Linked DNA regions of Homo sapiens. The protein of the gene in region 1 interacts with the protein of each later gene in a biochemical or structural test. Each region holds a gene or a part of one and is shown on either strand. Other genes may lie near its edges.

The links. The genes of interacting proteins can lie anywhere in the genome.
Region 2: the proteins of DRD5 (region 1) and GNAZ form a complex in vitro, tested with the Homo sapiens proteins (one study listed by BioGRID).

What each region holds. Positions count from the first base shown.
Region 1 is NC_000004.12:9,776,106-9,785,380, reverse strand, and holds DRD5 (D(1B) dopamine receptor), read right to left. Parts: upstream 3,748-9,275; 5' UTR 3,352-3,747; coding exon 1,918-3,351; 3' UTR 1,372-1,917; downstream 1-1,371. Other genes in the region: SLC2A9 (solute carrier family 2, facilitated glucose transporter member 9), read left to right, coding at 5,316-5,514. UniProt on the Homo sapiens protein: Dopamine receptor whose activity is mediated by G proteins which activate adenylyl cyclase.
Region 2 is NC_000022.11:23,122,519-23,125,532, reverse strand, and holds the end of GNAZ (guanine nucleotide-binding protein G(z) subunit alpha), read right to left. Parts: coding exon of another isoform or gene 2,883-3,014; exon of another isoform or gene 2,831-2,882; intron 2,447-2,830; coding exon 2,102-2,446; 3' UTR 501-2,101; downstream 1-500. UniProt on the Homo sapiens protein: Guanine nucleotide-binding proteins (G proteins) are involved as modulators or transducers in various transmembrane signaling systems.

The DNA.
Region 1 (9,275 bases):
GGATGCATCATGCACAGGAGAAGCTCTAAGAAGTCCTATCGAGAAAACAGGTGTTGAACCTGGGTTTGCTGAACTTATTTCACCAGAGACCCCATCCATTAACATATGCATCACAAAGCACAATTGGGTAAACAGTGATCTAGTTGAAGTCTTTCCATTTACAGACACAGACAGAAAATGAGGCCCAGAAAGGTTAATTGACTCACTCAAGGTCATGCGACGATCTCCTGAATCCTAGAGCTGGGTGCTTTTCACTGCCCCTAATGTTGCCTAATGGTTCGCTTAGCTATCCATTCACAGGAGGTCAGAAACTGAACACGGACCTCAGATTCCAGTATCATTTTGACTAAATTATATATAAAAATTGATGTACTGAATAGGATTTGCTTTCAATCTCACTGTTCCAGAAATAGTCATTCATTCAACAAATATTTATTAAGCACTATGTGCCAGGAACTGCACATTTTGCAGTGATCAAGATATGGCTGCACAGAAGACTGACAATAAAATTAGCCTTAAAGAGATCAAAATTGATTGAACTGTCCTTGATAAAACGGCTTCAAAGCAGGGACTTGCAAGAAATTGCATATTCACATTTCATTTGCTTCCATTAATAGTGCTCACATTTAGATCTGATGGTAATAATATGCTCTCAACTGGTGTGGGTCTGGAATAAAACACTCCCCTTGGCTGTGCACACTGCAGAGAGGAAAAACAAAATGATTGGAGTCAGCCGGGCTTTTCTATTGAGCACCTCGACCTACAGATTTTCCAATTTCAAGTTCATTCACATTTCATCTCTGGCTTCTACATTTTACTTAAAAAGCATTTCCCTATTTGCTATTGTCCACTAAGGAAAATGCCTATTTAAAAATAGAGTTTCTTTTTTAAAGCATCTTGATTCACACATTTCAAAGCTCTTCAGAAAACACGATTTCTCAAAAGCCATGTCATTCTAAAACATGCTACAGTTGTCAGATGGAGAAAGATTCAAGATATTATTCTACATGATCTTTTCAATGAACTGATCGCATCTGTCTAGGAATAAGGAGAGTTGTCTTATGTTACTTCAAAAAAGATTCCATATGAGAAAAAAAACATCTGGTCTTGAGAAGATCTAATGCCATGCCATTGAAGCCAGGTTTCAGCACAGACCCAACATGGGTATAAGTAATAAAAAGAAACCTGAGAAAACAGAAGCTCCTCAAGGTCCTTTGCCCTGGTGTATCTTTAAGGCCAAACTGTAAAGAGATTAAGCATGTACTTCCAGACCCAGCAAATATCTTCTTTGCATTTTAAGGATGCACTCATCGTTTCTTCAGAAGCAATCCTGAAACCCAATGTAGCAAAGCAAAGATAGTCACCCCATAATACAAATAATCTGTGTTTATTAGACACCAGAATAAATCAGGGATACTTCTTAAGCTATGGTAAAGAGGCCCCCACCAGCACAGAGAGAAGAAATGACATAAGCACAAAGCCACGGGAATCCAGACCCAGGAAAGCTGTGCTCCCACCACATCACTGCACACACACACAACCTGCTGTTTAAAAATCAATTCAAACACAAACAAGTGACTGAACAAGCCATTTGTTTAAAAAGGGAGGGGAGAGCATATTTTTTAAGGACCAAGTATCATTTTTTTTTTTAAGGACCCAGCACCATACTCTCTTCTCTCATAGGATCGTTGGTCCATCTCTGGTAGGCTGGGTACATTTGACTGAGTTTATTGCAACTGCTTCTGCCAATTCTTCGAACTACCAATCAATGGGGTGAGGTTTCTAAGCACACGAGCTACTACACAGAAACACATGATAAAGGGAGCAGCACTGGAAAGGCATGTATTTGCGTGTGTGTGCGTGCTTGTCAATGTCTGTGCGGTTATGCAGATCCATGAGGGGGTTTCTTAATGCAGTTTAATGGAATCCATTCGGGGTGAAAGGTGTTATTTTGTCTAAAGAAATCTCCCCCTCGCAGTCCAGCTCCCAGACAGACTCAGCAACAGGGTCACCATCTGGGGACGTCTGATAGATCTGGAACATGCGATCGAAAGGACCCTCCTCCTCGTCGTTGTCCACCTCCCGGTTGCCGGGGGTAACGGCGTTGGGCATCATGTGGATGTAGGCAGCTGCGATTTCCTTGTGGAAGACGATGTCTTGGTTGTAGGAGATGAGCTCATTGCTGATGTTCACCGTCTCCACCGGCGTGCGGGAGCAGAAGTGGCTGCACCCCAGCAGCTGGGCAAACACCTTCTGAAAGTCGGCGTTGAAGGCATAGATGACGGGGTTGAGTGAGGAGTTAGCCCAGCCGAACCAGACGAAGACGTCGAAGGTGGTCTCACTGACGCAGGGGAAGCCGGCCGGAGGGCCTTCGGGGTGTCCACTGCAGAAAGGGACCATGCAGTTAAGGATGAAGAAGGGCAGCCAGCAACACACGAAGACCCCCATGATCACCGACAGGGTCTTGAGAACCTTGGTCTCCTTCTTGATGGAAGCGCGCAGGCTGGTGTCGGGCGCGCAGGCTGCGCTGCTCCGGCAGCTCTGCGCGTGCTCTGCGGCCCTCTCCAGGGAGGAAATCCTGCGGATCTGCACCTGGGCGATGCGGTAGATGCGCGTGTAGGTCACGATCATGATGGCAACGGGGATGTAGAAGCTGATGAGCGAGGAAGAGATGGCGTAGGTTCGATTCAGGCTGGAGTCACAGTTCTCTGCATTCACGTCGGGCTCCCAAAAGTCCTCCTCCCAGGGCGTCCAGTTGGCCAGGTTGTTTGGCAGGTCCAGCCCGCCCCAAGAGGCCGCCTGGTCCCTGTGCCAGTTGAGCTGGACCGGAATGAAGGAGATGAGGATGGACAAGGTCCATGCCAGGCCGACCATGACCAAGGCCATGCGCTGAGTCATCTTGCGCTTGTAGCGGAAGGGCCTGGAGATGGCCCAGTAGCGGTCCACGCTGATGACGCACAGGTTCAGGATGGAGGCAGTGGAGCACATGATGTCGAAGGCCACCCAGACGTCGCAGAACGCTCCAAAGGGCCAGTAACCGGCCACCTCGGCGACTGCCTTCCAGGGCATGACCAGCAGCGCCACGAAAAGGTCTGACACGGCCAGAGACACGATGAAGACGTTGGTCATGTTGGCGCGCAGGTGGCGGCTCCGCACGATGGCTGCGCACACCAGCACGTTGCCCAGCAGGGTCCAGATGATGAGTAGGGTCAGCAGGCAGGCGGTGACCACCTGTGAGGGCCCCAGTGGCGGTGCCCCCGCCGAGCCCCCCACGGCGTTCCCCTGCGCCAGCTGCTGGTATAGAGCGAACTGCCCCGGGTACGCGGTGCCGTTGCTGCCTGGCGGCAGCATTTCGGGCTGGACTGCAGGGGCGGTCTGTGCGCGGTCCCAACTTCAGCCCTGCGACCCCCAGGCAGCCCCATCGGGCACCCCGAGGATGCGCCCCCTCAGCCAAGGGACCCTCGAGCCCCAGAGGGCGCTCACCATGAGCTGCGCCGGGCTGCGGAGCGCGCGGGGACTTCTCTTGCCTCCTGAAGCGCCTCTGGCTCCATGGCCGTGGTGCGCCCCTCCAGTCTCCGCGATGGGGACAGGAAGCGGCTGGTGCTCGCTGACAGCCAGGGCTGTTCTCGGGAGTCTGTAGCGCGCCGGACGGCAGCGGCAGCGGCTGTGTCTGGTTCGGAGCGAGAGAAGAGAGCAAGCCGCCACTGAGGGGCTGGGGCAGGCAGTCGCGGGCGCCAGGCTGGCACTGAGGCGCTGCCGCGGTCCCTGGCCGCTCCCAGGCCCCGCGTCCCGCCCCCCGAGCCTCCGCGCTCGACTCCCGCCCCACCTGTGCCTTGGCGCCCTCGCTCACCGCCCTCAGCGCGCCAGAGTGTAGGGGCGATCCCGCAGGTCCGAGGGGCGCCCCAGCGCCAGACCCTAGTCCCCGGGCCGGGGAAAATTCTCCCCGGGAAAACCGAAGGGTGCTTGGCGCATCCCTGGAGCCTTAGCCCTGGCCACGCTTGGGGAACAAGAGGTGGGGTAAGGATGAGGACGCGAGGGCTTCCGGAGGGGGAAAGAGCATTTGAAGGGTAAGCGGGGCAGCCTTGGATTACCCACAGACCCGAGTCCCAATCCGGACTTTATTCCTGGCTCTGCGACTTTAAGGGCCCTACATAACTTTACCCGGCCTTGGTTTCCTTCTCCACAGCGTGGGATAATGATTCCTACTCCTGGGACAGTGTCAGAACTCATGGAAGCCGTCTAGGATGAGGTGTCCAGTAGACAGTGTCTCCTAGGAACAGGCTCCCGCTTCCCCCAGCCCCTCTCTCAACACCCTGAGGCTGGGGCTTCAGCTGACCTCTTGGGAGATTGTCCTTTTCCCCACCACCGCCCCCAGTCCTTGAACGATTTTTCCTTTGGGGAATAATTCGGAATGAACTCAGAAGACAAGAGGAGGAAGAGAGCCCCCCACCCCCATAGAGTTGGAGGCCTCTTCTTTGCAGGGCACTTTTACAGCCTTTCTCTTTTTCAACCTTGAGAGGGATGGATAAATAGCTCAGTGTTTAACAGAAAAGGAACTGACGGGGCCCAAAACCCAAACTGAAAAAAAAGAATGATGGAAAACAATAAAGAGGGAAAACAGTGTTCCTGAGCTCTGAGTGCACCTCCCAGCTGACAAGTTGCATTTGTGAAGTGTTTCGGCCTCTACTGGCGTTAAGCTCAGCTGAAGGCAGCTGGGAGAGAAAGGGATGTGACAGCAGCCAGCTGCATAGCTCCGGCTGCGACCTGCTGGCCCAGACACCTGCAGCATGGTGAGGTCTAGAAACAGACTGGACTTTCTCCTCCCTTCCTAGTCTCCCCCTCCACCAAACGCACCTGTACCCTGGACCAACATCTGCAAGTGGCCCACCTTCTCAGACTTAAGCTGCTCAGCCTACACAGTCCCTTCCCCCAACCTCCTTCCCCCTCAGTGCTTTTTGCCGCTGGAGAGGGCAAGACCATCTGTCCAGGTGCCTAAACCTGAAACTGAAGGGCCATCCTCACCTCTGGTCTCTCCTCATCTTCTGGGAGCTGGACCACTCCTCTGGCCATGGACATCCCTGTCCAGAATTGTGCCTCCTCCATCCTGTTTGATGGTGGCACTTTCCTGGCCTCCAGTCTCTGCCCTGACCCTCTGTCTTCCCAGCAGGCAGTGATCTTTCCTGAATGTGACTATGTTCATGTCACTCCCCTGATGAAACACCGTCAGTGTGTTTCATGATCAGCTCCCTGTGGCCCCTGTTCCTGGCCAGGCATGCAAGGTCTTTTCCTCATATTGCCCTTGTCTTTGTCCACAGCTCCTGCTTCTTCTCCTTTCACTACTCCGAATACAGCCTGGATTCAAGCTGCCGCCACCACCACCGCCACCAAAAAAGAACACCCATTGTAAACGGTCATGTGGTATTTCCTCAACCTGGAATGACCTTCCCCTATCTTCTTCTCCTGGAGAACACCAAGTCATGATGTCAGACAAGAGCTTGGATTTTGGAGACATGGGTTTGAATTCCAGTCATTCATTCTTTTATTCAGCAAATATTTAACAAGTACTGACATGTCCCATATGTTGTTTTACCCACTGGTTATACAATGGGAGGGAGAGAGAGAGAGAGAGAGAGAGAGAGAGATGCTATTCTAAAAGCTTGAAGTCTAGGCTGTGCACGGTGGCTCACGCCTGTAATCCCAGCACTTTGGGAGGCCGAGGTGGGTGGATCGTGAGGTCAGGAGATTGAGACCATCCTGGCTAACATGGTGAAACTCCCTCTCTACTAAAAATACAAAAAATTAGCTGAGCATGGTGGCGGGCGCCTGTAGTCCCAGCTACTTGGGAGGCTGAGGCAGGAGAATGGCGTGAACCCAGGAGGCGGAGCTTGCAGTGAGCCGAGATCACACCACCACACTCCAGCCTGGGTGACAGAGCCAGACTCCGTCTCAAAAAAAAAAAAAAAAGTTTAAAGTCTAGATAGACTTTAACCCAGGAATAATCCAAAGAAATACACAATTACAAATGTGACAAGGGCTGTGAAGGGAAAGTTCACAGCCTTATCTAAGTGTACAGCAGTTGGGGAGGTTGGCCAAGGCAAGATGTTTAGGGAAGGCTTTCTGGGGAAATTTCTCTTTGGGTTGAATCACAGTTAAGTAGGCAAAGGGGAAGACAGAGGGAAGGGAAGTATGGCAGGCAGGAAGAATAGGCACTTACTAGCTTTGGTATATTGGGCAGGTCGCTTGATCTCTCTGAGCTTCAGTTCTCTCATCTGGGAAGTGAGTTAATAATAGTCGTTTAGAAAGTGTGATGAGACCAGCCAGGTGTGGTGGCTCATGCCTGTAATCCCAGCACTGTGGGAGGGTGAGGCAAGTAGATCATGAAGTCAGGAGATCGAGACCATCCTGACCAACATGGTGAAACCCCGTCTCTACTAAAAATACAAAACTTACCTAGGCATGGTGGTGTGCGGGAGGCAGAGGTTGCAGTGAGCCAAGATCGCACCACTGCACTCCAGCCTGGGTGACAGAGTGAGACTCCATTACAAAAAGAAGAAAAGAAAGAAAGAAAAAAAAAGAAACTGTGATGAGACCAAAACAATTAATGCATGAGTGTTCTGAACCTCCTTTCTCCCTCTGCTCTATCTGTGCAGTTTCTTGACCTGGGCGGTGCTCCAAAGAGGATTCTAGCTTGGCTTTTGTGATAGAGAATGGATACATTATTAGACCTGAAAAGCCGGAGGAGGGAGGAATGGTCCCAAAAGGAAGAAACTGTGCTTGTCTTCCCAATAAAGAGCAGAGAAGTGGGGAGAGGTATTGAAAGCTGTGGGTGGAGTTTTGCAGGGAAGATTGTGTGAAAGAGGTGAGGGAACTACGATCTGGGGGAATATGGATAGGAGAGTAAAAGGGAATTCTAGAGAACAATCCCTGCTGACTTCACACAACTTAAGAAATGCAAGTAAAGGGCCGGGTGCGGTGGCCCACACCTGTAATCCCAGTACTTTGGGAGGCTGAAGCAGGTGGATCACTTGAAGTCAGGAGTTCAAGAAGAGCCTGGCCAACATGGTGAAACCCCGTCTCTACTAAAAATGCAAAAATTAGCCAGGCGTGGTGGGATGTGTCTGTAACCCCAGCTACAGAAAGAGAGAGAGGTGGCTGAGGCAGGAGAATTACTCAAACCCAGGAGTTGGAGGTTGCAGTGAGCCGAGATCGCACCACTGCACTCCAGTCTGCTGGACAACAGAGCAAGACTCGGGGGAGGCGGGGAGAAGGAAAGAAGGAAGGAAGGAAGGAAGGAAGGAAGGAAGGAAGGAAGGAAGGAAGGAAGGAAAGAAAGAAAGAAAGAAAATAGAAGTAGAAATGCAAGTAAAACATTTCAGTTTGAAAATTGCCTTTTGTCTACTGAACATGAGACTGCTTGGAGACTGGGCAACATGGATTTTTATAAGTTGTACAAAGCACTTAGCAATGTTTGAACCTCTCCATCCTGCAAAGCCAGCTCAATCAGTTCTCCAGAAAGACTTACTGAGTCCTCTGCACTGAACAGGTGTCCTGTGTTCCAGGAGAGCCCTGGGCTGGCTCCTAGTGCAGCCGTTATGACCCTGGACTACACCATCTTTCACATCACCGCCTGGCCCTCTAGAATCTCAGCCTCTTAAATCAAGAAATTGTGTCTTGTTCATGTCTGAATTCCCCAAGCGAACACAGTGAGTGGGTGCTTGACAAATCTTTGTTGGTAATGAGCAAAAAGGGGATTCTGTGCCCAACACCATGAAATCAATGCACAGAAGTTTCAATCAACCAAGAAAGGTGCACAGACGCTGGCCACACACTGACATTTGTTTTCAGATGTTCCAGTCCCCCTGACTTTCACCAATCCATTCATTCCACAAGCATTTTTGATGGGGTGGAAGCAAGACAATACATGGTGTGTAAGTGACAGATAGGGTGGGTTTTTATAATGAGTATAGAAAAACTTCTAGCAGAAGATGATAAAGTATATCAAGAAAGGGCTCTCTTCAAGATCACACCACTGCACTCCAGCCTCGGTAACAGAGGGAGATTCCATCTAAAAAAAAAAAAAAAAGAAACAGAGACGGGGGCAAGGGAGCTCTTTTTTTCTAATTAGCACAAGATTGCCATTTCAGCTAGGGATTCTGCTGCAACCATCTCCCAGACCCTATTCTAGGGCCCGGGGACAGAAACAGAATTAAAAACATATTCCTTATCTTTCTTGGGCTTATATTATTGAGGAGAGAGAAATAAACAATTTCAAAATAAACAATGTCATACAGTGCTAAATGCTATAAATAAAATCAAACAGAATAACAAAAGAGGGAGTAGCTGGATTGAAGGGAAAAGCTGCTTCAGGATGAGTTGTCATCTTGGAGGAAAGTAAGCCCATGTAAAGGCCCTGGGGCAGAGTGAGCTTATTTGATAAAGAGGTAAAAGGGTCAGGATATCTGTAGCAATAGTGGCCACGGGAGGGAGAGGTATGAGACAGAGGAGGTGAGCCCTGTTGCCATGGTGAGGGCATGAGGATTTGTTCTAAGTTCCAGATACCTGGAATTAATGTCCTCTGAACTGGACAATAACTACGAGCCTTCATATCTCAATGCTACAGTCTTTAAGCCCCTGTTATAAGAACTCGGAGGCTTCAGGGATGACAGGAAACACCAGAACGCTATGGTGGAGCATATCTAGGTGCCTTCTCCCAACTCAGACCCTTTGACTGTACAAAGACACAGGTTTCAAGGCTGAGATCCACAAAACTCTAGCAAATACTGCACAGACACCAACCAATGACAGCAGGTGCTGCCTGTCACCCTGGAGCACCAGGCAGCATTTCAAAGCACTCTTGCTGTGCCGGCCTCTGATTGCTGGTTATAGGGAGGTCTGGGGTAGTCCCAAAAGCTGGGATGTCCAAGGTAGCTGGGGTCAGTCAGGAGGCTCAGGGCAGTGGCAGGAAAATATTTTCCTCCCTGTTAGAGCAACAGTGGGGTATCCAGGCTGAATATCAGTGGCGAGAAGGATGATCGCACAGCACCAAGACCTGCGGAACAAACTTTGTTGGAGCTGAATCCAGAAAAACAATCTTCTTCTAAGCCACTCTCCTGCCCCTCATTTAATTATTGTGCTTTTGGGTGTACTTGGACTACTCTGAAACATTCAGAACTCTGTCAAAAAAAAAAAAAAAGAAAGAAAGACTTCTTTCCTCAGCACCTCTCTGACTTGGGCATCAGTCTTGGCTTCCTGTCTACTTGCTTTCACTTGCTGTT
Region 2 (3,014 bases), on another chromosome or scaffold:
CTCTAACCACACAAGCCAGTCAGCGAGCACTGCATGCTCAGGGACCCCTCCTCTCCAAAACCCTACAAGGTTTGCCCTACACTACTGGGGGCACAGGAACCCTCCAGGCCCTCAGGGCACCTCTTCCACTCTGCAGGATGACTCTGACATTGGCTGAGGTGTCCACATGGTGGGAGGGGTCCAGGGTATGGCACAGCCTGGGTCAGTGTTGGGTGGGGTCTTGGGGGCAGCGGGAGGGGCAGGAGTCATCATCACCCCCAGACCTCCACACCAGGACTGCATGGACCTGGCAGGTTTCCCCTCTTTGCAGTTTCTTTCCTCTCGTGATGTTTATTTGTGATGTTCATTGCAAAATGACTCTACCTAAATGTGTGGAGGTATAGGGGTGGGGTTTGGAATATGGGACCTCAGAATGGAGGTGTCCCCGGCTGCCCTTCCAGATGGCACCAAGTCCAGCCACAGGTCAGCTACACACATAGCACACTGGGACAATGCTGGGCTCCATTCAGGGTATTTTATTTTCTTAAAGTAGACAACCTTTGACTTTCATCCAATCCCCAGCTTCTCTTTCCCCCGTACATCTCTTCACGTCCTTGGCTGTGATTCCGCACACTGACCTCGGACACACAGCTACTGCACGGAGAGAGGGAGGGAGATCTGGCAAGGGCTCCGGCAGTGCCTCTCCTCTCCATGGCGCAGTTCGTATTTACACACGGCCCTTGGCGAACGTCCTTTCAACGCAGTTGCCCATAGGCCCTGGGACAGGAAGGCCCAGATCAGGGTCCCAGCAGGGCCTCCCTCAGGCCACAACGCTGGCTGTGCCTTCACAGGAGTCAGAGCATTTCCAGCCAGTCTCAGGCGCGGGGCATGCTGGGACCAGGGGCACCACCCCTTGCTCCCCTTCCTTCACTCAGCAAAGCCACAAATAATTTACTCTTTAAATACCAAGACACTTAGCTATTGTTCATTTGCTCCCAGGTGAAAGAACCTTCTTTAAATATGTCGTGTTTATTTTCTTAAATAAAAACAAAGCAGAAAACCCCACCATTAACAAGAGGACACTGCAGAGGCTTATGTACAACACGTGTCCCGCGAGGCTGGCGCAGGACTGCCACTCACTCCAAAATTTCTTTGGAGCAGAGAGACAGATCGTCCAGATAACAACTTTTACACTCAGCAAGCCAGACACAAAAAAGACCACCTGAAAAAAAATATGTTTTGAAAATCTGCATTTAAAAAAGAATACTCAACTGCATTTGAAATTTTCTGGATTTTTTTCTGCGAAACACCACGAGATTTGGCCAAAAAAAAAAAAAAACCAAAAAACAAAACAAAAAAAAAATGTCAGAGAAGGAAAACCAGGTTTTGATTTATAAAACATCAGACTAGTAGAAGAAAAGCTGGAATCCCAGCTGGCCTAGTTTGAAATAAATCGTGCCACTCGTTTTGTTGTATTGGTTTTTGCTGCATATTTTGAAGCTGTTTTTTAAAAAGAGCTGTGAGTGGCTGGAGGTCTGGTTAGTGCTGTCACCCGGCTCCTAAGGTCCCAGGTCCAGAATGAAAGTGGTGCTGAGCAGCTGTGTGCAGGCCAGCAGGGAAGGTGCACAGACCCTGCACTGGTCCTCCCTCTTGGTCAGCGGCAAGGTCCCTAGGCCAGAGCTCGGGCAGCGAGCTGGCCCTCCTCCAGGCGACAGGGGTGCAGTTGGCCTACCTTGCCTCAGCCCTGCTGCCTATCCCTAACAATCCAATGCAGACCCCCAAGTGGAGTGGGGCCAACTCAGGAAGGCAAAGTGAAGGGGCAGGTTGGGCTTGTAGTGACCTTGTGACAGCTTCTCAAGTCTTCAAGAGACCTCGACATTTTAGAGGATTTTGCCATCTCCAGATGTGTGTGTGTGCATGTGTGTGTGTCTATCTACCTAGCAATCTATCCGTAAATATTTATGTTTGCAGAAATGTGGGGCCAAGGAGGCAGAGGCCAAGGGGTGGGGGACATTCTTTAGGCCCCCTGTTTTCTGCCCCTGGATTGGGCCTCTCTAGCACGCGTTGGGGCATGACACCCCGTGGGTTTCACCATAGGCAGGCGGGCCCCGGGCCCAGCTCCTCAGCAAAGGCCAATGTACTTGAGATTGTTCTGTATGATGACGTCTGTCACCGCGTCGAAGACAAACTGGATGTTACTGGTGTCGGTGGCGCAGGTGAAGTGGGAGTAGATCTCCTTGGTCTCCTTGTTGCGGTTCAGGTCTTCAAACTGCCGCTGGATGTAGACAGCGGCCTCCTCGTACGTGTTCTGGCCCTTGTACTCGGGAAAGCAGATGGTGAGCGGGATGCGGCGGATCTTCTCTGCCAGCAGGTCCTTCTTGTTCAGGAAGAGGATGAGTGAGGTGTTGATGAACCAGTTGTTGTTGCAGATGGAGTCAAAGAGGCGCAAGCTCTCTGCCATCCGACTCTGGGGAAAGGAAAGTACTGGCGTTAATCAGGCCCGCAGCAGGCAGAGACAGACCCTAGACCTGCAGCCCTGCCAGAGGAAGCCTTTGCTAGGGTCTCAGCCCAAGACTGGTCCCTGCAATGGCACCTCCTTCTGCTGGGGAAGCCCAGGTTAAATGTCTTCACCCACCTCCCACGGAAATAGCCGGCAGCACCCTCCTTGCCAGTGGCAAGTGCTTGGAAGATGTTCTCTTGCCCCTTTTGGGTCTCTCCTCTGGGTGCCAGTGATCTCAACATATAGCTTTGGGGCTACAGATGTGCCAAGCACAGCCTCCTAAACCGCTGGGCACCTCCAGCTCCGAGGACCCCCCATCTTCCCACTGCCCATCCACAGGCTGCCCCACACCTGTACAAGGAAGGCCATCTTCTGCAGGAGCCCCCGTCACATCATAGCTCCCTCAATGCAGGCGCTGGCAGCCTTGTGCCCTATCTGGGTTCTGGCCCAGTCCTTCAAAACTCTGATCCTTCCATGTGGTACCATCGGACACTAGGAAGTCTGTGAGGGAGCAGCCTTCACTTCTGTAACCAAA